Regions from separate parts of the Homo sapiens genome. Here region 2 is linked to region 1. Evidence: fine-mapped expression QTL. A gene starts in region 1. The other region holds a variant in brackets. All regions are shown on one strand. Distances are between the middles of the regions.

Region 1 (12,224 bases):
AAGTTTAGATAATATCTGAGTCACTGTAGTAACATTTGAAAGAGCAAGGGTTAATATCCAACTCTCTGTAGATAACATTTTGTAGGTAACATCTTCAGGAAGCATAGATTACATTCAGAGGTCTACTTGTGAGTAGTGGAATATCCAAATAATGATAGAAATTGCTGACTGAGCAGAAGTAATATCCAAGTATGTATGGGTAGTATTTGAGTACAGATGTTAGATGTTAACATGTTAACTAAATTAAGATGTTAATCTGGGCCAGACATGGTGGCTTATATCTGTAATCCCAGCACTTTGGAAGGCTGAGGTGGGCAGATCTCTTAAGCCAAGGATTTAGAGACCAGCCTGGGCAACATGGAAAAACCCTATCTCTACAAAAAATACAAAAAATTAGCCACTTGTGGTGGCACATGCCTGTAGTCCCAGCTATTTAGGGGGTTGAGGTGGGAGGATCACTTGAGCCTGCGGAGGTCAAGACTGCAATGAGCCATGATCATGCTACTGCACCCCAGCCTGGGCAACAGAGGGAGACTGCCTCAAAAAAAAAAAAAAAAAAAAGATGTTAATCTGAGTAAATGAAATAACTGAGCACCTGAGTGAATGTAAGTAATATTTAAGCTTTTGTGGGTATTATCTGAGTATGTGAGAGTAATATTTGTAATTTTATGGGTAGTATCTGGGAAAAGCTTACTTAAGTGAGCATAGGTAATATCTGGTTGTGTGTGGATAATAATAAAATGAAAGTGAGTAGTGTTTGATGGATGGGTAACACCAAAATGACTTCGGACAATATTAAAGTGAGTGTGGTAACATTTGTCTTTCTGTGGGTACTATCTGAGTGAACATGGGTAATACTCAAGTCTGCATGGATTATATAAGGAGAATAAAGTGGTAACATCCAAATTCCTATTGGTAACATTGGAGTGAACCTGGGTAACCTATGCATCTGCAGGGATAATATCTGAATGAGTGTGGCTGACAGGGTCTCTGTGTGTAACATCTGACTGGCTGGGTAACATCCAAATGTGTGAGGAGCATTTAGATAAGTGAGGCAAATTTTTGCACCTGTGCTCTGAATTGCGTCACATCCCGCTTTCACAGGGAATCTTCTCTATTGACTATCCCCTTTCTTATCTGCACCTTCAATCTTCCTCTCTCGGCCCAATCACCAACAAACATTTTAAAAAGCTCTTGTTTTAAAATGCGTGCACACACACGCGCACACACGTAACAAACCTATGCACATACCCACTCCCCCCTTCCTCAATCTCATGCTATTTTTGGCAATATCCTGCTTTTCTTTCTCTCTCTCTCTCTCTCTCTCTCTCTCTCTCTCTCTCTTTCTTTGCCTACCAGACTTCTTGAAAGTTTTGGCTACATACCTTGGTTCACTTCTCATAACTCCTTCTCTCACCAGTCCAATCTTTAACCTACCATAGTCAAGCCTCAATACCTACAACTCCTAAATATTTTCTTGTTATTGAATGTGAAGGATGCTGTTCTGACTGTCCTGTTTTTTATTTATGTAACTTATGTCAATAGCATTTGATATCACTTACCCCAACCTGCTTGAAACTCTCTTTTTCTTGCTTTCTGGAAGGGCGTAGCTCCTGCCTTTCTGATGGTTTCATCTGAATCTCCTTCATAAATTCTCCTTTCTCTGCCTGGCTTTTAAATAATGGTCTTATGCAGAGTCTTGACCTAGGACCTATTTTCTTCTCATTCTATACAAAATTTTATGATTTTAACTATTCTCGGGGCTTCTACATCCTGTAGGCAAAGACCTTCTTCAAGTCTGTATTTCCACCTCAGACCTCTCCTGTAAGTTCCAGACCCCTGGATTCAACAGCTTACTAGGTAACCTCACCTGGATGCCCCACTAACATTTAAACTCAATGGGTTCCAAACTGAATTTATAATTCCCTCTTCCAAACCTGTTTCTGCTGTTTTGTTATCTTTCTCATTGTATACAATTGCTATAGCACCAATATCCATTCAGTTGTCCAAGTTAGAAATCTGAATGTCATCCCTTGACCTCTTCCATCCTCTCTGCTTCTAATCTGTTGATTCCATTTCCAGAAGAGGCTCTCAAATCTATCCACCTCTCTCCATCTCCCTTGCCATTACCTTAGTCTCAGCTAGCATCATCTTTCACCCAGAACAGTGTAATATAGTAACCTTGTAAAGTATCCCCCTGCCTTCCATCTTATGTCTTCCAATCCGTTCTCCACATTATAGAACTAATCCTGGTAGTACTACCGAATCTTTTAGTAGTTCCTATTGCCCTCGGGAGAAAGTCCATGTTCCATGGTCAGGCCTAGCAGGCTCTCTGCAAACCCTCTAGGCTGGTCTCCAGCCTGTTCATTATTCCCTTCTTAAGATATATGTTCTAGTCACTCAAAACTATGTCACAGTGGATAAAAGTGCCATGAATTCAAACTTTGAGCTTCTTATACATCTTGTCCTTTTATTTGGGATGCTTTCTGCCTCTTCTGCCCGTTCACTTGGCTGGCTCTCCCATATGTATATGTGTGTGTGTGTGTGTGTGTGTGTGTGTGTGTGTGTATATATATTTTTTTTTTTTTTTTTTTTTGCCAACAGGAAGCTTAGAGCCAGCCTCCCTAATTTTTTTGACTTTGTAGCTCATTTCCTCAAGAGGCCAACTTTAATTCTCAAGGAGGCTGGGCTGGGCTAGAGGTGTTCCACTTGTGTTCCCACTATCTTTTCCCTGTCAAGGCTCTTCCACTTTGTGCTGCAATCCCCTGCTTTTCTGTCTCGCCCATTAAACTTTGAGCTCTGTGAAGTAGGAATTGTGTCGGTTTTGTTCAACTTACATTCCCACTGCCTAGCACAATCTCTGGTTCAATAAATATTGGCTGAATGACAGAATCCAAGTGTGAGTGTGTAACAACTCGGCTGAGAAAGCATAGATTATTTCGTGGGGTAAATAAATACTTGGATTACAATTTATTCCAACTTTCCCTTTTTGAGTTTAGAAAAATTTCCTTCTGCTTAACATTGCTCCTTCACCTAGAATCCCACTCCTTCCTTTTCTGCCTACTCAACTTCAAGACCCAGCTCTAAGGTTCTAGCCTCTGTGAAGTTCTTTTGGTGCCCACAGTTTAGACCCTTTCATGGGACTTCCATTGTGTCTGTGATTTTTCCATTTGCTTGGTTTCTCTCTGCACTTGGCTATGGGCCATGAGGGTCCAGACTGGGTCTAGTTTGCCCTGTGCCCCCAGCACCTAGCCTAGGGCTGGAGAGAGAGCTTGGAAGATAGCTGGAGACATTACTTGCAGACAAAGAGAGAGGGCACAGAGCCTCGAAAGCTCCAACTAGGGAGGCAGAGGGGTTTGAGAAGGAGTGAAATGGAGGCAGGCAGCTCTAAGGAGCATCCCCTAGTGTCCAGCCTAATTCAGATTTGAGGATCTTTTTTGGGATGGCTGGGGGCTGGGGTGTCAGATGTGATCACAACTTCAGCTTCGCATTCAAGCTTTCCAGAGTGCTCCCTCCCTCAACCAGCCCCCTTCTTTTCCCAGTCCTGCCTTCCTTTCTTCCTTCCCTTCTCTGTTGTGGCTCTGTGAACTGGATGTAAGAGGGAAAAGGAGATCTGCAGGGTTGGCAAGAGGAGGTCCTCGCCTTCTGACTGGTGTCTAGGAGGGGCTGCGTGTTGGGGAAGGGGCTGTGCTTTGGGGTGAGCAGGGGCTCTAGGTGTATTCAGGGGACCAGGATGTGAAGGAGTTCCGACCAGGTGGTGTGAAGCTGTGATGAAGTTGTAGGCTGTGGGGGTGAAGGTGTGAGGGGAGCTGTTTGGGGGCTGAGGGAGTACTATGAGAGGCACGGTGTGGACGTTTGAGAAGGTAGTGTGGAGCTCGTTGGGGGGACTCTATTAGTGTTCTGGGGTACAGTGAGAAATAGCTTGTGGGGGGGGCTGAGGGAGGCACCCACCTCGTGTCCCGGCTCCGCGAATGCGAGGGGGCTCGCAGCTGAGGTTGCCCACACTGCTGCTGTTGAGGAGAGGCGCCCCCGGGCGGCACAGGGAAGCCCCCGGCCCGGGTCCGGTTCCCTGCACGCTCCGGTTCAGCTTTAGCAGCTCCATGGCCCCCGCCGAGCCCGCCGCCTTACTCAGCTCGACCCGGCGGGCTCCCAACGCGGCTCCACCTGCTCACGCTGCGATTCCGGCTCAGGCTCCCGCCGCCCTCCTCTCCCTGCCCCCTGCCCCGCCTGGTCCCCGCCCCCAGCCCAGGCGCCTGCCCTCCACTCTCCCGCGGCTCGCCCCGCCTGGGTTCCCGTCCCTCCGCCAGCCTCTGTCCCGCCAGGTGACTGTGCACCCCCTCCCTGGCTCGGGAGTTCTGCCCCTCCCTGTGCGACTGTCCTCCAGGCTCGCCCCCTCCCTAGATGTGTCCCGTCTCCTCTTAGAGATTTCTCTCCTGCCCACCTCTCTTTATCACCCGCCCCCACCCCCGATTCCCAGGAATGAGAGAGAGAGAGAGAGAGAGAGAGAGAGAGAGAGAGAGAGAGAGAGATTGAAGACAAGAGTATTGGCAGCGTAGGGGGAGGTTTCGGGGAAGGGAGGGTAGGAGGGGTTGGGTAGAGACGGCTGCCACGGATCCAGCATCTTTCTCTGGTGTATCAGGGAACGTGGAGGTGGCGTTGGAGACCAGGTCTGCGTGCGTCACCTGCTGAGGCGCGGATGCTTTAGTCTGAGCCTAGAGCCGCATTTACCGTACTGTGTTGCAGTGGCCGCAGTGACCGTGACACTATTGCTACCGTAGTTCCCTGCAGCTCCTCGCTGCGGGCCTGGGGTAGCTCCTGCATCTGTCTCCGCACCCTCCATCTCCTGTCTGAGGCTTAACACTCAGGCTTGCACTTAAGGGTCCCAAGGAGCCCTCCACAGCTGGGCGGGAGTGGGGGTGGGGCCGGGGCCGAGATTTGGCTCCAGGGAAGCCTTGCCAGGGAAAAGGGCTCCCGGGAGGAAGCTTCTGACTTGAGTGTTGAGGGCAGTTGGGGGTGGTGGCAAGCACTGACAAGGATAAACCAGAGTAAGGTGAGGATGGGATATAATTCTAACGCCGGCCCAGCGCAGGCAAAAGAGAAGGAGAAGGTTGGCTTTCTCCACCGTCTCCAGGCAGCGCCCACGCCCACCCGACACGCTAACGCTCCCTGTTTGCTCTCAGTGCAGGCAGAGCTGCCTGTGTAGGGTGTCAGGTTCCCACGAGAGGGGGCTAGAAGGGGACTGGGTCACTGCGGTGCAGCGGGAACAGGGCTGAAGGGTGCAGGACTGAACTGGGTTCAGCTTCTCGGGGCAGGATTTGCCTCTTCTACTATTTCAGCCCTGCTCCCTATGCATTCTCCTATCCATTCCTTTTCTTCCCCAGATTCCTATCTCCAGATTCCTATCTCCAGATTCCTATCCATTCTTCAGATTCCGGATGAACTCCAATACGATGTGAAATTCTTCTGACCCCCAGCAGTAGCTGTAAGAGGTTGGGGGCGGGCATCAGTGGAAGAGCAAATTAGAGAATGGAGTCTGGCTTTATGGGGGATTCAGCAGGCCCTTATCCAATTAATCTTTTGGAGAGGACCTGGTTCAGCCAGCCCTGAGTTTATAGGGGCTGAAGCATTGAAAGAGAGTTGAAAGACAGTTTATGCCTGAGATGTCATCAACTGCTCCCCCTTTCCTTCCTCCTGGTACTGCCTGTCTTGCCCATCAGAGAGCCTGGACCAGAGGAGCTTGATTTGCTATTTGTTCCGCTCCAGCACAGGTGGGGCCTCAGATAACCTGCTCAAGTTTTCCCACATTGGATGACAGTACGATGAGGAGGGAAGGGAGCAAAGGATGTAAGGGAGAGGGGAGTGAAAATAGAAATAGATGGACATTCACTTATTTAGCAAACTATGCCAGTTCTAGGGGTATGCACTAGTTGTCCAATATAGTTTGCCCCTCAGTAGCACCTACTCTAGTGGGATTTTCCCAAGCAAGCCAATGATTGTAATATATGGTCGTTAAGTGCACCCACCAGGATGTACAAATCAGAAATTTAGGAATTATTATTGATGCCTTACTCCCCTATGCTCCTTCACCCCTGCGCTGGATGCTGTGATGCAAAGCCCAGAACCCTCTTCAAAAATGGAGGATTTATTTTCCAGCTGTGGAGAGTGCTCCTAAAAGATGGCCCTCAGCTGTCATAACCCTTCAGGAGTTGCCTAAGCAGAAGAAAGCCAGCTCATCCAAGGTTATGCTCCCTTTCTTGGGCATTCTATATCCAATGACCGATCAGCACAGAGGTATAAAAGTTTAATCCCCTCAACCCAGTGGTGGACAACTCTGAAAGATGCTCACACCCCTAGAACCCTTCATATGGTTGACTGAGGTCTTTGCTGGGACTGAATTACTACTCAGCTTCTCCTTTTGCCCAATCCTATTTTCATCCTCTCTCTTGCACAGGTGTTAACTCCAAGAACGCTCCTTAGTAAACATCCTCCACAGTAATCTTTGTTTGAGAGTCTGCTTCCTGGGGAACATAACTACATCACTCCCATATTGAATCAATCACAAAGTCCTGTTCATTTTAGCTACTGAGTGTTCCTTGAATCTGCCTGCTTATATGTCCACTGATATTACCCTACTCTTGAACCACACTCCTAACCTCCTAAATGGGCCACCACATTTTACTGATGCCTCTCTACATCTATACTTCACCTTAAAGCCGAAGTACTATGCTCAGAATACAAATCTGACTATCCCACTCTTTTGACCTTTGCTTTTGGGAATGAGAAAACATATTAACAGAATTTAGAAAGCCTGTGAGGCCTGGCTCCCACTTACCTCTCTAGCCACATTATTTCAAATCACATTATTTCAAATAAGAGTCACAATGATTCTTATTCTCTCCACTGTAAACACATTAGCCTTTTTTTGGTCACTCCTTCTTTTTTCTCTTTTATTTTTCTTTTTTCTTTTCTTTTTTTTTTTTTTTTTTTTTGCTATATGTCCTTCAGTTGCATGACTTTTCCATATGCTCTCTGGAAGCTTCTTCTTTCCTTCCTTACCTAGTTAACACTTACTCATCCATCTGATCTCAGCTCAAGCTACGATTCTTCAGGGATATTTCCCCTGGCTTCCTCTCCTTGGGTAGGCAGAATTAGAAGATGACCACCAATGACTGTCACCCTTATATAATCTTCTTTTGTGTGTGGATGGACCTGTGCATATGATGAGATACTACTCCCACAATTATGTTATATGGCAAAAGGGATTTTGCAGATGGAGTTAATTCTACTAATCAGTTGATCTCAAGATAGACAGATTATCTGGCTAGTCCTAACCAAGTCACATGAGTTCTTTAAAAGCCAAGGGTTCTTTTTTTCTTGCTGGTAGCAGAAGAGGAAATCAAAGAGATTGGAAGAATGAGAAGAATTCAACACACTGTTGATAGCTTGAAGATGGAGGGGATAATGTGGCAAGGAACGAATGGTGGCTGTTTTCTGGCTCGAGGGTGAAGGAGGGCACAGGACAAGCCCTGAGAGTGGCCTCTAGTTGACAGCAGTCTCTAGCTGACAGCCAGCAAAAGAACAGAGACTTCAGTCCTCCCCCGAGTCTGTAGAAGAGAATTCAGTCTGGCTGAAACCTTGATTTCTGATACCCTGAGCAGAGAACCCAGCCACACTGTGTAGACCTCTGGCCAATAGATCTGTGAGCTAATAAATGGGTGTTGTTTTTAGCCACTACATTCATGGTAATTTATTACAACAGCAACAGACAAATCATACACCTTCTATCTCATGAGGCAGCAAATGCAGACTCTTGCAAGCCATGCAAGGAAGAATTGGGAGCATTGGAAATTTGTTAAGATTTAGAAAGATTTGGAAAGATTGCAGTGGAGTTAGTGTGGGGAGCAACTTAAAAGGTGGGACCAATTGGGAGTCTATGACAGTAATTTGGGTGAGAGATGGTAGTGGCTTGACCTAAAGTCATGGACGTAGTGGAAAAGATTGATCTAAGACCTATCTAGGAGGTAGAAACAGAATTTAAAGATAATTTGCATGTGGAGGGTGAGAAAGAAGGATGAGATAAAAAATGAATAAGGTTTCTGGTAACTCAATATAAACTATTTGATGATCACCTATGATGTTCAAGGCACATTACCTGTAAGTACATTTAATCTTCATGAAGAACCATGAATTTAGGTCCAATATTGTTGATCACTATTTTAGATGAAAAAACTATGGCTTAGAGAGAGTTTAAGTAACTTGCCCAAAGCCACAAAGCTACTAGGTGAAAGAGCCAGAAGTCAAAGTCAGGGATTTTGGAAATCAGAATTCAGTTGTTCATACTGTGCTGCTTAGAATGAGTAGATGTCTTACCAAATTTCCCTGATTACCTTCTTTCTCTCATTTTACACAATATTGTTTTTAAATTTTCTCGTCTCATAAAATCTCTAATTTCTTCTCCCACCCTGACACACACACACACACACACACACACACACACAGAGACACAGAGCATTCTTCACTCTCAACCTAGACTCCAACTTCATAGAGAAAATAGTAACTAGCACAGAGAAACTCCCACCATCAAATCTGTTCTGTTTTGGACATATTAAGTTTCAGATGTCTATTAGATACCTAAGTAGAATTCCATTAGGAAGCTAAATATACAGATCATATAGGAAGTAATGCAAACCACAGAATTAGAGTGTGTAGAATAAGAACAAATGAAGGATCAAGTCAGACTTTTAGAGGTCATTATTAAAGACTGGATAGAGAAAGATGAGCCTGCAAAAGACACCAAGAAAGAGTAGACAGAGGGACAGGAGGAAACCCAGAGAGTGAAGCATCATAAAAGCTAAAAGAGAAGAGGTGCAAGAAGAAACTGGTGAACTCATTCAAATGCTGCTCCTGGGTAAGCAAAATGAGGAATGAGAAATGTGGTCCAAAATTAGTAACCTGGAGATCTTTGGCAACCTTAGAAAGAGCCATTTTAGTGAGGTTGTTGAGGCAGAAGGCAGGGTAGATGTCCTGAAAACTGAATATGGTGGGAAGAAGTGGAGTAAATGACTTCAGACAAGTTTTTAAGAAATGTAGTTACTAAGGAAAGGGGATAGAGCTGCAAGAGGATGTCAAATGAAAGATTTTTTTTTTTAAGATGGGTGGACTTGAACTTTCTTTTCTTTCTTTCTCTCTTTCTTCCTTTCTTTCTTTCTCTTTTTTTCATTTTTTTGGCAGATGGAATTACTCCAATATATAAAAAGACTAAAGATACAGGAGAATGGCTAATTAATAATGCAAGGTTCCTGAGAAGTCAGGGATGTATGCAATCCAGAGCGGAAGTGGAGGATCCTAGCTTTTGATTGCAGTAGAGACTCAATTGTGAGAGGAAATTAGTAGAAAAAGATGATTATAGATGAAAATAAGTTATGGCCTACAAATTAACCGCTACATTTCCTAGACCTTTTTGCAGCTAAGTGCAAAAAATGCACACTATGACTAGGTAGTGTCTGTAGGTAGAAGTGATATGTGCAGCTTCCACATCAAGGTCTTAAAGGAGAGAAATGGACCTTCTCTTCCTCTTTGCCCCTATGGGAGGGCAATAGGAATGTAAATAGGAAAGCAAGCCACCTTCAATCATGCAGTGAGGGTAACATATTAGGGATGGCAGAGTGACAAAATGGAAGGAGTCTGGGTCTCCTATACTCTCAAACCATTTTATCATCCCTGATTCTTCTGCATGAAAAAGAAACTGCAGTCTTAACTCGTTACAGTTTTTTTCCTCTATTGTCAGGGCAACCTAACCTGCATCTTAACTGAGACAGTTGTTTGTAGATTTGGTAGGGAGCTGCTGTCTGATAGTTTTTATTTTTGCTATGGAGTTGGAGATCTGGTTATCAGAGAGTGGTGTGTGTGTGTTTGTGTGTGTGCGTGTGATGAAAATTTTTAGTAGTCAAGATGGTTTAAGAAAACAATATATAATGGGAGAAGGGAAAAGGAGACCTGAGGAATGTAGTGAAATAATAGGAAAATACTGAGGGCCCACTTAAGGGGTGATGACTACAAATTTCTAGTGGGATCAATTTCTCAGCAGAGCTCAGCTGGTTGGATGCAAGCAAGGAGAATGTTGATGGTTTGGTTCATCCAAAGTTGGAATTTTACCAGATGAATGGAATGGCAAAATAAAGGGACAAGTGTGAAAAAACGGGCCATAAAATCTCAGCTGGACATGGAGAAGAGAGAATTATATTCCAAGGGTCTGGCTCCTGCCCTTGTTATTGTATTTGGAGATAGGGCCTTTAAAGAAGTAATTAAAGTTAAATAAAGTTATAAGGGTGGGGCTAGAACTGTTGTCATTACAAGATGGGGAAGAGGCACCAGATATCTTGTGATCCACCATTTCCCTCATCCCCTGCCACCTCTTCCCCCTGCAAGCCACACACAGGGGAAAGACCATGTGAGGATGCTTTCTGCAGGCCAAGAAGAGAGCCCTCACCAGAAACTGAATGTGTTGGTACCTTGATCTGGGTCTTCTAGGCTCTAGAACTGTGAGAAAATAAATTTCTGTTGTTTAAGTCATCCAGTCTGTGGTGTCTTGCTGTGGCAGCCTGAGCTGACTAATACATGTCCCTCTCTCCAATAGTTTCTCAGACTTCTCGTCACACTACTGTCATTACTTACTTTCTATCTTTTGTTTACTCTCACACCCAAACACTGGCTCTAGCTGGATGGTCACACTTGGCTTCAGGAGCCTCAAATATCTTATATTTTCCTTGTGGATGCCAAGTTTTCATCATCTTTGTATCTTGCCCATATTCTCCCCTCTAACTAAATGCAGATGGGTTATGGAAGGTGAGGGCTAGGAGATGGCATGTGTAGATTGATTTCAAGATGTTTTGTAAAAGGGAAAATAAAAAACAAGTAATAGCTATAGTGAAGAAGGGAGGGGGAGCAGAGGATGGAGGGGAAAGGAATGAAAATGTAGTGCTAAAAGGGTATAACTCATTTCTCGAAATCATGAAATTCCATCTATACTTCCTTTGCTAGACATAAGCCAGCATTTTGGAGAGAATGGGATATCTCAGGGCAAGAAAATAGGGATGCTTTAGATCGGAGTAAGGAAGGAATTGCAAAGCCAATGTGGGCAAAGGCATATGAAAGAGACTTGGACCCTTGTCCAGGAACAAGTCAGAAAACTAAGAGGTCAAGGAAGCACATGCAAGAGGTCCTGAAGTAGGCCTGGGCTCAGTCCTGAGGGAATCTGTCTTTCTAACTCAAGCTTTGACCTGCCAAGGTTGTTTGTTATTTGGTTTTAGTTTTGGTTTTGGTTTTTTAGAGGGGGATTTTGGACCACCTAGCTTGACTCTTGTAGCTAGAACAATTTACTTTCCCTTTTGGGAAGTCTCAATCTCCCATGGTACTGCCCCATTGGCCCAAATGTGGGCACACGATCCTTCTTTCAATACTCTATATCACAACTGAGATAAGAGGGGAACATTGAAATAAAACTTCAGTAAATATTCATGGGAAACAACCGCAGAGAGCAGAACCTACTGCCTCATGCACAGTGCCAGATAAGCTGCTTTATAAGGGACTGCTTATTCTAGGTAGCTTGCAAGGTCCACAAAATATCAGTGCTTTAACCAGGAAACCCAGTGTTTACATTCCCAGTAGTGTGAGGGTCATGTAATACGCTCTGCCTCCAGCACTCCTGGTTCTGACGCACACACGTGCAGCTGAGGTCTGGCGCTAGGAGAGAAATCAGCTACAGTTTAGTCCTTGGGGTGCCCAGCTTGCCCTTTTCCCCATTGGCTCAGCCCCGCCCTCTGTGTCTGATTAGGCCACCTTCTCCTTATATCTTTCAAGGCCTTCTGTTCTCTGCATTTCTATGACATGCAGACTTGCTTCTGTGCTGAGCTCCTGCCCACACATTCCCTGCCCAAACAGGAGGCCCTTCTCTTGGGATGATTAAACAGAGGAAGCCAGCTGAGAAGGCAGATGGGCTAGAGCCAGAGCAGGCAGGGCTATTGAGCAGACGAAAGAAACCAGGACAAGGACTGGCCTTTCAGAAGCCTGGGGCTTGTGCTGGGGAAGAGCAGAGGCACCCATTCAGGGGCTGGCTCTGGCTGGATACTTGACTTCAGATGTAGACCCTCACGGGTAGGCCAAGAGAGGCCTAGATCTCCCAGGTCAGGGCCTCATTCAAAGGTTGAGAAAGCCAACAGGAGGTC
Region 2 (12,789 bases), 35 kb before region 1:
AGAAATCTCAGCTTGATCTTTTACAAGCTTCTATTCATTTGCTGTCTTGAAGCTAAGATGGTAAGTCCAAGGAAATTTCTCCATAAGATTTCATCTGTAGTATCTATACATTTTGGCCTAATTCCTTTCTTCTTGAATCTTCCTTCCTTCCTTCCTTTGCCATGTTGGCCAGGCTCGTCTCGAACTCCTGACCTCAGGTGATCCACTCGTTTCAGCCACCCAAAGTACTGGAATTATAGGCATGAGCCACCGTGACCAGCCTCTTCTTGAATTTTTCAAAACCTCTCAAGGCTCTTGGCCTGCCACGAAAGTGACCTCCCTTACCACCTCCAAGGCTGGATCCTGGATAAATCCAGGTACCAGGACGGTTTTCCTTGGACAGATTTGCCAGCACTGGCTCCATCAAATCAACCTTAGTTTCCTAAAAGGGGCTGATCATGCACAGGCTATGGCTTCCCTGGGCTGGCAGGAAGCTCCTCTGCAGCTGCTGTTCACAGAGCTGCAGCCTGGTGGCCACTGATGCCAAAGACTGGGTACTTGGAGCCACTGGTGCGCTGGTCAGCAGAGGGCGTGCTCCCTGCCACCTGGGCGGAGAGGACTGGGGAGGATGAAGTAGGGTGAGGTTGGTGGGCTTACTACCTTAATGCTAACTCTCACAGCTGTTTGGAGATGAGCCCACCACCACCTGCCCCTGCTTGTCTCAAATCTTTTCTAAAAAGGACAAAAGAGGCTCACCAGTTGTTCCTCGTGTTCCTGGTTACAAATTATTTGGCAAAGTTTATCCCAGAGATTATCTTTAGAAAACTTTCAAAAATAATTTAGCAAAAGTATGAAGCACAAACAGAAGGACCTGTCAACCACCATGTCAGGCTTCAAGACATAAGAATTTCGAATCTGAACCATTTTTACCTGTACTCTGATTTCCAGGTATGAGCCATCATATGATTGATTACTGCTTTTATGTTCTGCTTAAGAAATCTTTGCCCACTCCAAGGAAATCTTGTCAAATCATTAGAAGAAGCTTTAGGTCACCAACAAGAATGTGGGACTGTGAATCAGTCTCAAAATCAAGAAATTAAAGCAGTCAAAAAAAAGAAAGAGAGAGAAGGAAAGAAAGAAAAAAAGAAAGAAGGAAAGACAGAAAAAAGAAAGAAGGAAAGAAAGAAAACAGTAATTTAAACAGGAAGAAAATATTGCCAGTTGCAGTGGTTATTTGGACCAGTGAAAAATAAGGCATAGTAGGAGAAAAGGTAAATTATGTTCAGGGGTTGCCCCCTAGTGTTCCTGGGCAAATTTGTAGTCTCACTGTAGGAAATGAATGGATTATCATTCCTGACCTTTATGAACTAGTCCTCTCAAGAGGAAAGGAGTGGTGAAAAAACTTTGGTGAAACAAGTTCTCTCTGAACACATCATTCTCTCTGATAGAGAAGGTGTACCTGTTGGCGATCCTGGTGCTGGTCTGGAATTAAGCTGGACAGATCCTATGCATTGCCATCTCTCTACCTACATCTTTTAGAAGAGTGGCCATTTCATGATGTTTTACATAGTATGGTAGCAGCATATTTATGTTACAGTCCTGATGTTAGTTATGTCCAAGGATGCATGTCATTGTGGTAATGCTCATTCTCAATTTGGAAGAGACCAATGCCTTCACTGCATTTGCAAAGATCTCATAAATAAGTCACGCCAGTTGGTCTTCTGTGTGGATCACAGCAAGGTGTTAAGATATTTTGCAACGTTTGAAGTATTCTCTGAAGACAATTTCTTCAGATTGTTTCTTCAAGTCTTATGGCCTTACACCAGGCACATGCTTAATAGATAGGATCTTCACACTGTATCATAAATCACTACTCTACTTGATCTGTTCTATCCAGTCTGAGATGTTTTACAGAGACAGGAAGAAATTTTTATTTAGAACTGGACTAGGAACCCTTCATCTGTATGAAGATAGTTTCCTACAGATGGACTTGATTCATATTGCACCTTGTCTAACTAAACGGGCAGAGGCTATCATATCAGAAAAGCTGTTTAGCTGTATTGCAGTCACCTGGACACAGAAGAGTACCAAGAAATGGCCCTAGGTCTTTGTGTCTGTAATGAAGCATATTAAAGAAGGAGATAAGGATATTTTTAAAATGTAGCATATTTAAAGTATTAGAAGTTCAAATCCATTATTTTCTGGGAATTTTAAGAATATTCTTTTTATATAAGTGCTTATTTATCTCTATCAGCCAATCAGAAAAGAGCCTCTTTAAAAAGAGATTGATAATCTAATTTATTAGTATTATCTAGAGGTAGGAAAATTTTACATACTTACACTGTGAAAGGTAAAGATCTTTCTAAATTATGGACACATAGACAAACAGAGACAAAGAAATCTTATACTTCAATTAAAAATTCCATCATGGGTTAAGGGTAATAAAGAAACCCCAAAACTCACCAGTCTCAGTATGAAAGATTTGTTCTCCTTCCCAGTGAGCCCAGGATTCTTAATTCATTTGGGCTTAAAGTAGACAAATAGACAAACAAAAAGAACTAATAATCCAGATTCTCCATTTTCTCTCACACAAAAGAGAATATGTCTCTATAAGTCATTCATCTATTTATAGAGATCACCAAATGGTCAGACTATGAAACCCAATTCTCAATCATTGCTGCTGCTAATGATTATTGCCTACAAATGAACCAAAACCAAAACACAAAATTAGTAAAGAGAAAAATTAAAATTACAAAAATAGCAAAGATGCATGTGTAAATTGAGCCCAAACTCGTTTTTATTTGGGGGTGGGGTGGGGTAGGGAGGTAAGAGGGAATGGTGTTTTGCATTGCCGTTATTTACAGCTTAGAGTTGTAAAAGAGCTCCCATAGAAACAGAAACAGATAATAGGAAGTGTGGGCTATTGACAATGCATGGTTTTATTGAAGCTCAAAATCTACTCTACATAAGGTAATCCTTAAGGTTGGGATGCTGATGCCATTTTCAGTGTTACAAAGCTACGGTCCTAACTGGGCCTGCCTGTAATCCACTCACTTCTGAGCCCCAGCACACGACTCTAGGATTCTGTTTACAACTCTTCTCCAACCCCAACTAGCCCACGACTTTCATCCAATCAGGACAGGCACCCTCTCGTAGCACTCACAGTATCACCAGTCAGGCCACACACAACGGGGAGAAAAAAATCAACCCTCTTTCCATGTTTTTGAAATCCAGATGTGAAGAGCTAAAAATAATTTTTTAAAACTTGAATTTGTTTAAAATCTCCCTAACTGTAGTTTCCAATGTAAAAAGCAAAGCAAAGCGAAGCGAAGTAAAACAAACCAAAAACCCACTCACAAATCCAAAGGGATTTTCTTGAACTGTTTCAACAAGAAAAACAGCAGGCTCTTCCTACTTTTCTGAAGCTCCTAAATAAAATTTTTTTCTGACTCAGAGTTATAGTGAATTGCTCAACTTTATTTCCCAATGTAAAAAAAGGAAAAGAGAAATCCTCACAAAAATACTGCAGTAAGGCCGGGCCCGGTGGCTCACGCCTGTAATCCCAGCACTTTGGGAGGCCGAGGCGGGCGGATCACGAGGTCAGGAGATCGAGACCATCCTGGGTAACACGGTGAAACCCCGTCTCTACTAAAAATACAAAATATTAGCCAGGCGTGGTGTGGGGCGCCTGTAGTCCCAGCTACTGGGGAGGCTGAGGCAGGAGAATGGCGTGAACCCGGGAGGCGGAGCTTGCAGTGAGCCGAGATCGCGCCACTGCACTCCAGCCTGGGTGACAGAGCAAGACTCCGTCTCAAAAAAAAAAAAAAAATACTGTAATAAACTGTTAATGAGGAGGACAGAAAGAAAAAAGAAGGCAGTCTATCATTCACATGTCTAAAATAGTGCTCGGAAAAGGTGGAGATGCTCCCTTCTCCGAGAGCTTTAAAATGAAACTTTAAGGGCACAATGTGGTGCTCTAGAAGGTATGACATGATATTAAAATGAGTTCCCTCTGTCTTAGATGCAGCTGCAGCCCAGAAGCAAAATAAATAACAGAAGGTGGCAAGCCCCCTACTTCAAGGTGGAGTGTTGGACTACCAAGGCAGGACCAGCAAAGGTTTTGTGAGCTACAGGTCAGTATCCATTCCTCAATCCCTCATGGTTTGAGGTTGAAGAACTGAGGGAGTGGCTGGGTGCGGCGGCTCATGCTTGTAATCCCAGCACTTTGGGAGGCCTAGGCGGGCAAATTACTAGAGGTCAAGAGTTTGAGATGAGCCTGGCCAACATGGTGAAACCTTGGCTCTACTAAATAAAATACAAAAATTAGCTGGGTGTGAGGGCAGGCGCCTGTAATCCCAGCTACTCAGGAGGCTGAGGCAGGAGAACTGCTTGAACCTGGGAGATGGAGGTTGCAATGAGCTGAGATCGTGCCACTGCACTCCAGCCTGGGCAACAGAGCGAGATTCTGTCTTTAAAAAAAAAAAAAAAAAAAAAAAAGAACTCCAGAAGAGAGACTCTGGAAAAAAAAGGTTGAGGCACTGTGGCACTTTTTTCTTCCACCTTCTTACCTTGTGGAAGGTTGGAAGTGGTGAGCTCCTCCTCACCCTAAGTCTCGTGAGATGGGGCTTTAAAAGATCAGCTGGAAAAGCTGGAAAACGATGTCTGTAGAATTGACAGGCCCAAAGTGACTGGTCTTTGCCCCATGCTGGAGAATATTAAAGGCAAAGGCAAAGATTAAAAGTAGGGCTGGAGCGTGTATTTCTTGTGAACCAGATAGGGGAAGGGAAAATATAAACATGAAGATTGTTTTCCAGGAGATCCCACTTCAGTAAGTCGGCTTCCTCCTAAAGGGTGCTAGGCAGCAGGGGGTTAGAATCAAACGCAGAAACGTATGGAGTAAGTGGCCAGCAGGAGGGTCTGTTACAGACCAATGTGTTCAGTGGAGCCATCTGTAAGGGCCCCACATAAGTGTCCTGTGTGAGGAGTCCATAGTAAGCATCTGCAAAGATCATGGAACACTACCAGCAAGTACTACTGTTCCCCTGAACTGAGGCCTTTTCTCCTTTCTCGCTCTTTCCTTCTCCCACCTCTACCCCAAACCCTGTCAGATCCATACCCCAGAGAAAGTAGGGGAGGAGAAGTAGAAGGATTAGGCTGGAAAACAAAGAAGCTAGCTGTGCCAATGCCTACCCACACCCCCACCCCTGCCCCTTCCCCTGCCCCTGCCTCCTTCTCTTGAGTTCAGGCTTCCTGAATGAACCTCTGAGTATATTCAGCTTCCAGCCTGAATCGGCTTGGGCTGGGGAAGGAGAGAAAGAAGAAAAATTTGCCTTAAAGTTCAGAGTTTTGACTATTATGAGACTGTTTTATGACTAAAAATGACTGGAGTACTTTTTAATTTTTCTGAGTGTCTGGAGAAGCTACAGGAACCCACCTACCTGAGGTTTTACTAAGGGGCAAGGAAGAAACTAGCCCCTGAGCAGAGGGAGCAGGTTAAAAAATAAAGTTGCCTTATGATTGCATCCTATTAAATGCCATCTGTTTTAGTCTTTTTTGTGCTGCTGTAACAGAATACCACAGACTGGGTAAATTACAGTGAAGAGAAATTTATCGGCTCAGAGTTTGGGAGGCTGGAAAGTCCAAGATCAAGGGGCCAGCTTCTGGTGAGGGCCTTCTTGCTGTGTTAACCCGTGTTGGAAGGGCAAAGACAGGGTGAGAGAGAGAGCAAATGAGGGCCAACTAAGGAACCCACTCCTGCAACAAAAACATTAATCTACTTATAAGAGAAGAACTTTTATGGCCTAATCATCTCTTGAAGATTCCACCCCTTAATCTATTACAATGGTGATTAAGTTTCCATCATGTGCTTTTGGGAGCCACACTCAAACCATAGCACTACCCTTTTAACATAATGACTATACAAGTTTGCTCCAAAGAAGACAGTCTCTTTCCTAACCTCTAGTGAACAAACTAATATCCTTCTCCGGTAACTAAACAGGACTTGAGAAACTTTTATCCTGAGGATATTTGAATCAGAAAAATACCCTGCAGTCTCTGAGAAATTTGTCAACTACAAAGGACAAAACAATCAAGCCGGAAAATAACTTTCTGACTTGAGCTTTCTAACATTGGCTTCTTTTTTTTTTTTTTTTTTTTTTTTTTGAGACAGAGTCTCACTCTGTCTCCCAGGCTGGAATGCAATGGTGCAATCTTAGCTCACTGCAACAGCGGCCTCCTGGGTTCAAGCAATTCTCTCATCTCAGCCTCCTGAGTAGCTGGGATTACAAGCGCGTGCTGCCACATCTGGCTAGCTTTTGTATTTTTAGTAGAGATAGGTTTCATCATATTGGCCAGGCTAATCTTGAACTCCTGACCTCAGGTGATCTGCCCACCTTGGCCTCTCAAAGTGCTGGGATTACAGGCGTTGGCTTCAAATTTTTAATATGTCACAGGGTTAATCAGACAGAAAGTTCTGGAGATAAGGGCTTTTTAGAGGAGAAAAATAATACCCCAAT[G/A]TTGGCTCATTCAGCTGGTCAAAACCATCGAGAAAGCAAACTAGACAGAGGAAACAATGAATTCTAAAACCTTACAAGGCAGGTCTTTGTATTTTCTGAGACTTATGTCCTAGGAAGCATGCCAAAGAACCTCTCAGTGAATTCTAGAGGCTTTGCACCTTAGAGTGGCAGGTAGACACCAGCTAGAGCCCTTTTCTGCCTCTCTGCTGAGAGTGGTACTGTCCTTACCAATCTTTGATATAAGTTATGAGCTGATGAAAGAATTATCTTTAAGGACCATGTGCATGTATGATTTCAGTGTAAACTGTGCTCTTTATTTCTAAGTACAGTGAATGTTTGTGTGCATTTGCTAACGAGTAGGTGCATTATAATCAATTCCTTCTTTATAATATATTGAAGTCTCTTTTTTTTTTTTTTCTGACATGGAGTCTTGTTCTGTCATCAGGCTGGAGTGCAGTGGTGCAATCTTGGCTCACTGCAACCTCCGCCTCCTGGGTTCAAGCGATTCCCCTGCCTCAGCCTCCCGAGTAGCTGGGACTATAGGTGCCCGCCACCACACCTGGCTAATTTTTTGTATTTTAGCAGAGACTGGGTTTTATCATGTTGGCCAGGATGGTCTTGATTTCCTGACCTTGTGATTTGCCCACCTTGGTCTCCCAAAAGTTCTGGGATTACAGGGATGAGCCACTGCGCCCAGCTGAAATATCTTAAAACACACCTGAAGAAGAGGGTATTATGGAGTTACTGGTGCAGATGATACCAACATTGCTTCAAAATGAACAGAAGTAAAGCTGCCTAAATGGAATCCCTGCAGCACTACTGCGGTAGACCCTGTAGGCTGACTAGCTAATTAGGCAAGGAGTCCTTGCTGGCAGTGAAGACCACAGGCCAAAGGCAGGGAATGGAGCTGTGGGGCCAAAAATGAACTTAAGTGTGAATAACTGGGGTGGGAGAATCCAAAAATTCTGTCCTATGTATCAGTACTTTTCAAACTGTAATTTGTATGGGAATGATCTAGGGGTGTTGTTAAAGTACAGGTTCTGATTTAGAAGGTCTGGGATGGGCTTGAGAGCCTTGATTTCTAACAATTCCCAGGGGATCACCCTGCTAAATCATCTTTTTAAGAAGGAAATAAATTGAGGGAAAGATTAAAAAACAAAAGAGGGGAATGAAGGTGGAAGTGAGCAATGTAAGCCCCAGTGCTTTCCCCAGGGCCATGCTCTCGGACCACTTCCAGGGGAAGACCTTTAGATTCTTCAGCCACCAAATCTCCTTGGAGGATTCTATTGCGGAATTCTCTTACAATAACTATACCACCTTGCTTATTTAGAATCTCTGTTGTATAGAGTTGGGGGGGAGGAGGGGTGTTCCCTCTGCATTTGGAGGAAAACTTCACAGTTCTAGAGTAGTGAAACCCTGGTGGTGGTGACAGCAGTGTCCCAGGGTGGTTGAAGTACTCCAAGGAATGGAGCTGAGATCTCACTGAGACTGCATACGAGGGAGCGCATACAAGGGATCTCATGGAAGGCATACAGAGGCATCACTGAGGATTCCTACAAATACATTTCTGGTGGGGGGTATTATAAGGGGGCATGAGAAGAATTAGACAAATATGTGACCTCCAGATAACTACATATATGCTCCAGAAGTGCCAGGATCTGGACACCTGCCTCACAGAGGCCATCACGCCAGTCTGTGTTAGCCAGAGAAGCAGTAACCACCCACAGAGACGGGAGCACAGCGTCACCTGGCTAAGGAAGGGGATGCTGTCTTTCTGCTTTTCCTTCTTCCCCAACACCAGTGGGAGGAACTATAGCAGGAAAGTTATGGGAGTACCTGAGAGTCAGACTATACTCCATCTCTCCTTTTTACTCTGATAATAACATTACAATTTTTAAACATATTTCTATGAATTTGCATGTTTATAATGTTTGCTCATTTTCCTATTGTGCTTGTATTTTCTTATTGATTTATAAGAACTCTTTATATATGTAAGTATATATACATACGTATATTACGTGTGTGTGTGTATATATATATATATATATATATATATATATATAAAGATACACAGATTTATATATATAATGAGAACTTTCTTGTGGGAAAAAAACCCAATAGCTTGAATCTTAGAGATTGCTAGTTATTAATGACAATAACAATGGCAGCTAATTTTTATCAATAATTTTCCAGGTACTCTGTTAGATGTTTCACATGGATTTTCTCATAATCCTCCTGACAACCCTATGAGGTAACTGCTATCACCTCAGAAAACCGAGATTTAAACAGTATAGACCACTTATCCAGTGTAACACAGCTAGTGAATATTAACACCAGGATTTGAACCCAGGCACACACTCTAGAGAAGAAGACAGGAAAGGCAAGAGGCTCTTGAGAATTCAGAGGGTCCTGAGAAGGGGGTATGCCAAGGCTGTGGGCTAAGAGTTATTAAGGTCGCAATCCTCTCCTTCCTCTCTCTTTAAAACAAATATTAATGGTGAGAGTGAGCTCTGGGCTAGGTACCGAGTAAAGGGTGGTGAAGGACACAGATAGGTCCCAGAGCTTACTGTGTGAAAGGAGAGAGCCACAACAAAAATAAGCATGTAATCTTAAATATTTGTACATGCTATGACGAAAAATTAGAAGGGCGTAACAGGTAACGAGTGGAGGACAGTTTAGACTAAAGGAGTAGGAAAGGCTTCTTTTGAGTAAGAAATTTTTAAATAGAGACCTGACAAAGAAGTATAATAAGTTAGTCAAATGAAGAGGAGGAGAAAAGAAGAAATTGCTAATGAAAAGAGAGAAATCATTCCTGATGTAGGAACGGTAAAAGGAAAGTAAATCTTGGGACCCCCAAATCACTAAGCCAAAGGGAAAAGTCAAGCTGGGAACTGCACTGGGAAAACCTGCCACCCGTTCTATTTTTTCCTTTCACAGAACAAACAGGACTTTTGAACAAGTGAAAGATGCTAGATGAGTAGGCAGGGGTTAGAGCAGGCAGAGAAGTGTTGAAAGTTTCAGGAGGGGACTTACAGGGTCCCTACCACTGGAATGAATTAGCAGAGGGTTTTGGCATTTTGAAGCTAAAGTCTCAGAATTTGTTGGTCAGTTATGGAGTCAGAAAGTGACCCTTGAAAGTGTGGGGATTGGGGCTCCTGAGGCAGGAACTGACCTTGGGCTTTGCCTATCTCAGGGGCTCCTGGTCTCAGTAGATTTTTCAGGGTCCGCGTTCTCTTCTCACCTACCCATTCTCTCCCACAATTTAGTCAGACCTCTGCAACAGATTTTCAAACTGTCCAGTCATTTCCACCTGGCCCTTTTCTACCTCTCCATCCACTTAGCATAGCATTTTCTCTTCGGGTATGGAAGAAATAGCTCAATTTTTTTGTTTTTACTCAAACCAGCTCTGGCATTTTGTACCTTTCTTCCTTTGCTCAAAACTACTTGTCATTCTTGGAATTTGACTCTCTTTTCATATTCACCTGGGAAGAATTTTAGAGCTGTAGAGAGCAGCCTAGCTCAGAAGGTACTTCCTCCACAAAGCTTTCTCAGACCCCCACAGTCAAAACCTCTATTTTGCCCATTATTGCCCATTCAAGGAGATCATAGTTGGCTTGCCTTAAAATTTTATTTCCTGCACATCTGTGCCTTCCAAACGTGAGTGAACCTATCTAGGGATGGACCATGTTACATCTTCTCAGATCTAGCCCCTTGCCTGCAGTTTCTCCTCTCCTTTCCTATAGTGGGGAATATTTCTTCACTCAAATTGATCAGTGGTGTGACCAACTTTGTAATCCTCACCTCCTAACCATATTCCCAATATTCCACAAAGGTAAGAGTCACTTGGATGTTTGTTAAAAAGTCAGATTCCTGGGCTTTGCCCTAAACCTAATGAATCAGATTCTTCAGACATGCCTCTCACATGTTATATACCTCTCTTTAAACATAATTTATATTTTTCCCTAGCAGCTTTGAAGCTTTTCTCTTTTTCGTTGGTTTTCTTTATCTTCACTATGATGGCTCTATGTGTGTATTTCTTTTGTACTTGCTGGAATTCGTAGTGCTAAAGGAAAGGGGTCCTGATTCAGACCCCAAGTGAGGGTTCTTAGATCTTGCGCAAGAAATAATTCAGGGCGAGTCCACAGAGTAAAGTGAAAGCAAGTTTATTAAGAAAGTAGAAGAATAAAAGAATGGCTACTCCATAGACAAGAGTAGCCCTGAGGGCTGCTGGTTGCCCATTTTTATGGTTATTTCTTGATGATATCCTAAACAAGGGGTGGATTATTCATGCCTCCCATTTTTAGACCATATGGCGTAACTTCCTCACGTTGCCATGGCATTTGTAAACTGTCATTGGTGCTGGTGGGAGTGTAGCAGTGAGGATGACCAGAGATCACTCTCATCACTATCTTGCTTTTGGTGGGTTTTAGCCAGCTTCTTTACTGCAACCTGTTTTATCAGCAACATCTTTATGACTTGTATTTTGCGCTAACCTCCTAACTCATCCTGTGACTTAGAATGACTTAACTGTCTGGGAATGCAGCCTAGCAGGTCTCAGCCTTATTTTACCCAGCTCCTATTCAAGATGGAGTTGTTCTGGTTCATATGCCTCTGACATGTCCCTTCTGCCTTTTATAGGAGAACCCTTAATCCTAAGGTTGCAGAGGGATGACGATCCATCTTTTGTAACGGCTTCACCTGAATAGGGGTGATGATATTCCTGCCTAGCTATTAGAGCCTCTTGTGTTTAGGGTAGAGAGGAACTCAATCAGAAAGCATTGGTATGGCAAGGGCCAATCATAACTTTGAGTTCCGAGAAAAGGTGATATCTCGAAGATTAATACGTATTTAGTTTAAGAAAACGTTCAGTAAGCTTATCCTACATTCCTACACAAAGAGTACAACAGCAATATATTCCACAACAGTAAAGCAAAATAAGTAAAACTATCTCAAGTAAACTAAATTAGAAGGCTTTATATGAATTGGGCAACTATTGGAACCAAGCTGATATAGGGTTGCTAGATGATTCCAGTACATGCCCAGAATTAGAATACTGATTCAGATTTTCACATTACCTTTCCCTTTTGTTTCTTCTGAGCAGCAGTCAGAGATTTCTGGTTGGTTCACAGAAATAAGCAGCGTTAGCCTAAATTGCAGAAACAAACTTAAAAACAACTGATGAGACTAGAATTTAATAAACAGTGTACCACAGTTCTTGAAACATAATTTCTCTCTCCAGTGTCCCATTTTTACTAAAGATAAGTTATGGTAAGACCAATTTGCTTTGTTTTGCTTGGCCTGATTACTTGTATAAAGTGCAGCAAAAATAATTATTTTTTTCATAAGCTCTTTTTGCACAGGCTTTGATGGAACTCTGTTCCCTAGAAGGAATCTTACATAAGACTTTTTTAGAGCCGAGCCCTTTCATGGGTTTGTACCCTCGAATACCTATGAGTTGAATAAATTCCTCTCCTCTTGGGGTCGCAAGATAACCTGGGGCTTCTGGACCTGTTAGAAAGTGACATTCTTTACTTACCACAGGTCAGAAACCTTGTATGGGGACTGTTATCCATACCTTGTATGGGGACCTTGTAGACAAGGTCTGAGGCCAATTGCCCAAGGGGCTTTTATTGGCTTTACAAGTCAAGTTTGATTCCTTAAAGAAAAGCACACCATTCCAATCAAAGTGTTGGTAAAATAACCAATTTCTCCAATTGTGTCCTGTTGCAAAAGAAAACATTCTTATTGCACTTATGCAAATACCTATATTGCCATAACTTAAGAATATTCACAACTAGTTTCCAAATTCTGGAGAAATCAGGTAGAGAGAAACAAATAAGCTCCAAATTTTGTTCGGAGGAGTATACTTTACTCAATTGCTAAAAGCTGTAAATAGCTCAAAAAAAAGTTTTCTTGACTCTGAAAAACAAAACAAAGGATTTAAGCAAAAAACGTTTTAAGCAAAAAGTTTAGAAGATACTTCAGACTTCTTTAGTTACTCTATGCAGTTAACTTTTGTTTGATATTCATGAACATTTCAGCTCCCTGTGAGAGCTCTGAAAGTTTTTTTCCTCTATTCTGATGTCACAATCTCCGAAGTTACCAGAAAACCTGCATTTAAGAGCCCCTGTATAGCTCTATAGCTGATTGTAAACCACCTTCTAAAGAGGAACAAAACGAGACTACAATTTTTTTATGGATGACAAAAAGTTTTAGCACAGTCAAGCCAAAATTGACTAGGAAATTTTGAGTACCTTTGTGGCACACAAGGATTTTATGTAACAATCGTACACTA

Alleles and levels. Positions count from the first base shown, and alleles are read on the strand shown. Sizes are in standard deviations (SD) of each study's normalised expression.
For the expression in thyroid of the gene that starts at base 4,193 in region 1, allele A in region 2 goes with a lower level than allele G (small effect, 0.40 SD a copy in GTEx).

What was found. PIP is the estimated chance that this variant, and not a neighbour inherited with it, causes the effect.
Region 2: its variant is fine-mapped to the expression of CCKBR in thyroid (GTEx, PIP 0.96).

Annotation. Positions count from the first base shown.
Region 1 is chr11:6,251,807-6,264,030 of GRCh38, reverse strand. CCKBR (cholecystokinin B receptor) reads right to left here and starts at 4,193. Exons shown (of 5, transcript NM_176875.4): 1 at 3,952-4,193. The coding sequence starts at 4,102.
Region 2 is chr11:6,286,526-6,299,314 of GRCh38, reverse strand. No RefSeq gene overlaps it. Among named protein-coding and RNA genes, the nearest start is that of CAVIN3, 28 kb to the left of the region's middle. The variant G/A (reference allele first, on the strand shown) is at 6,495.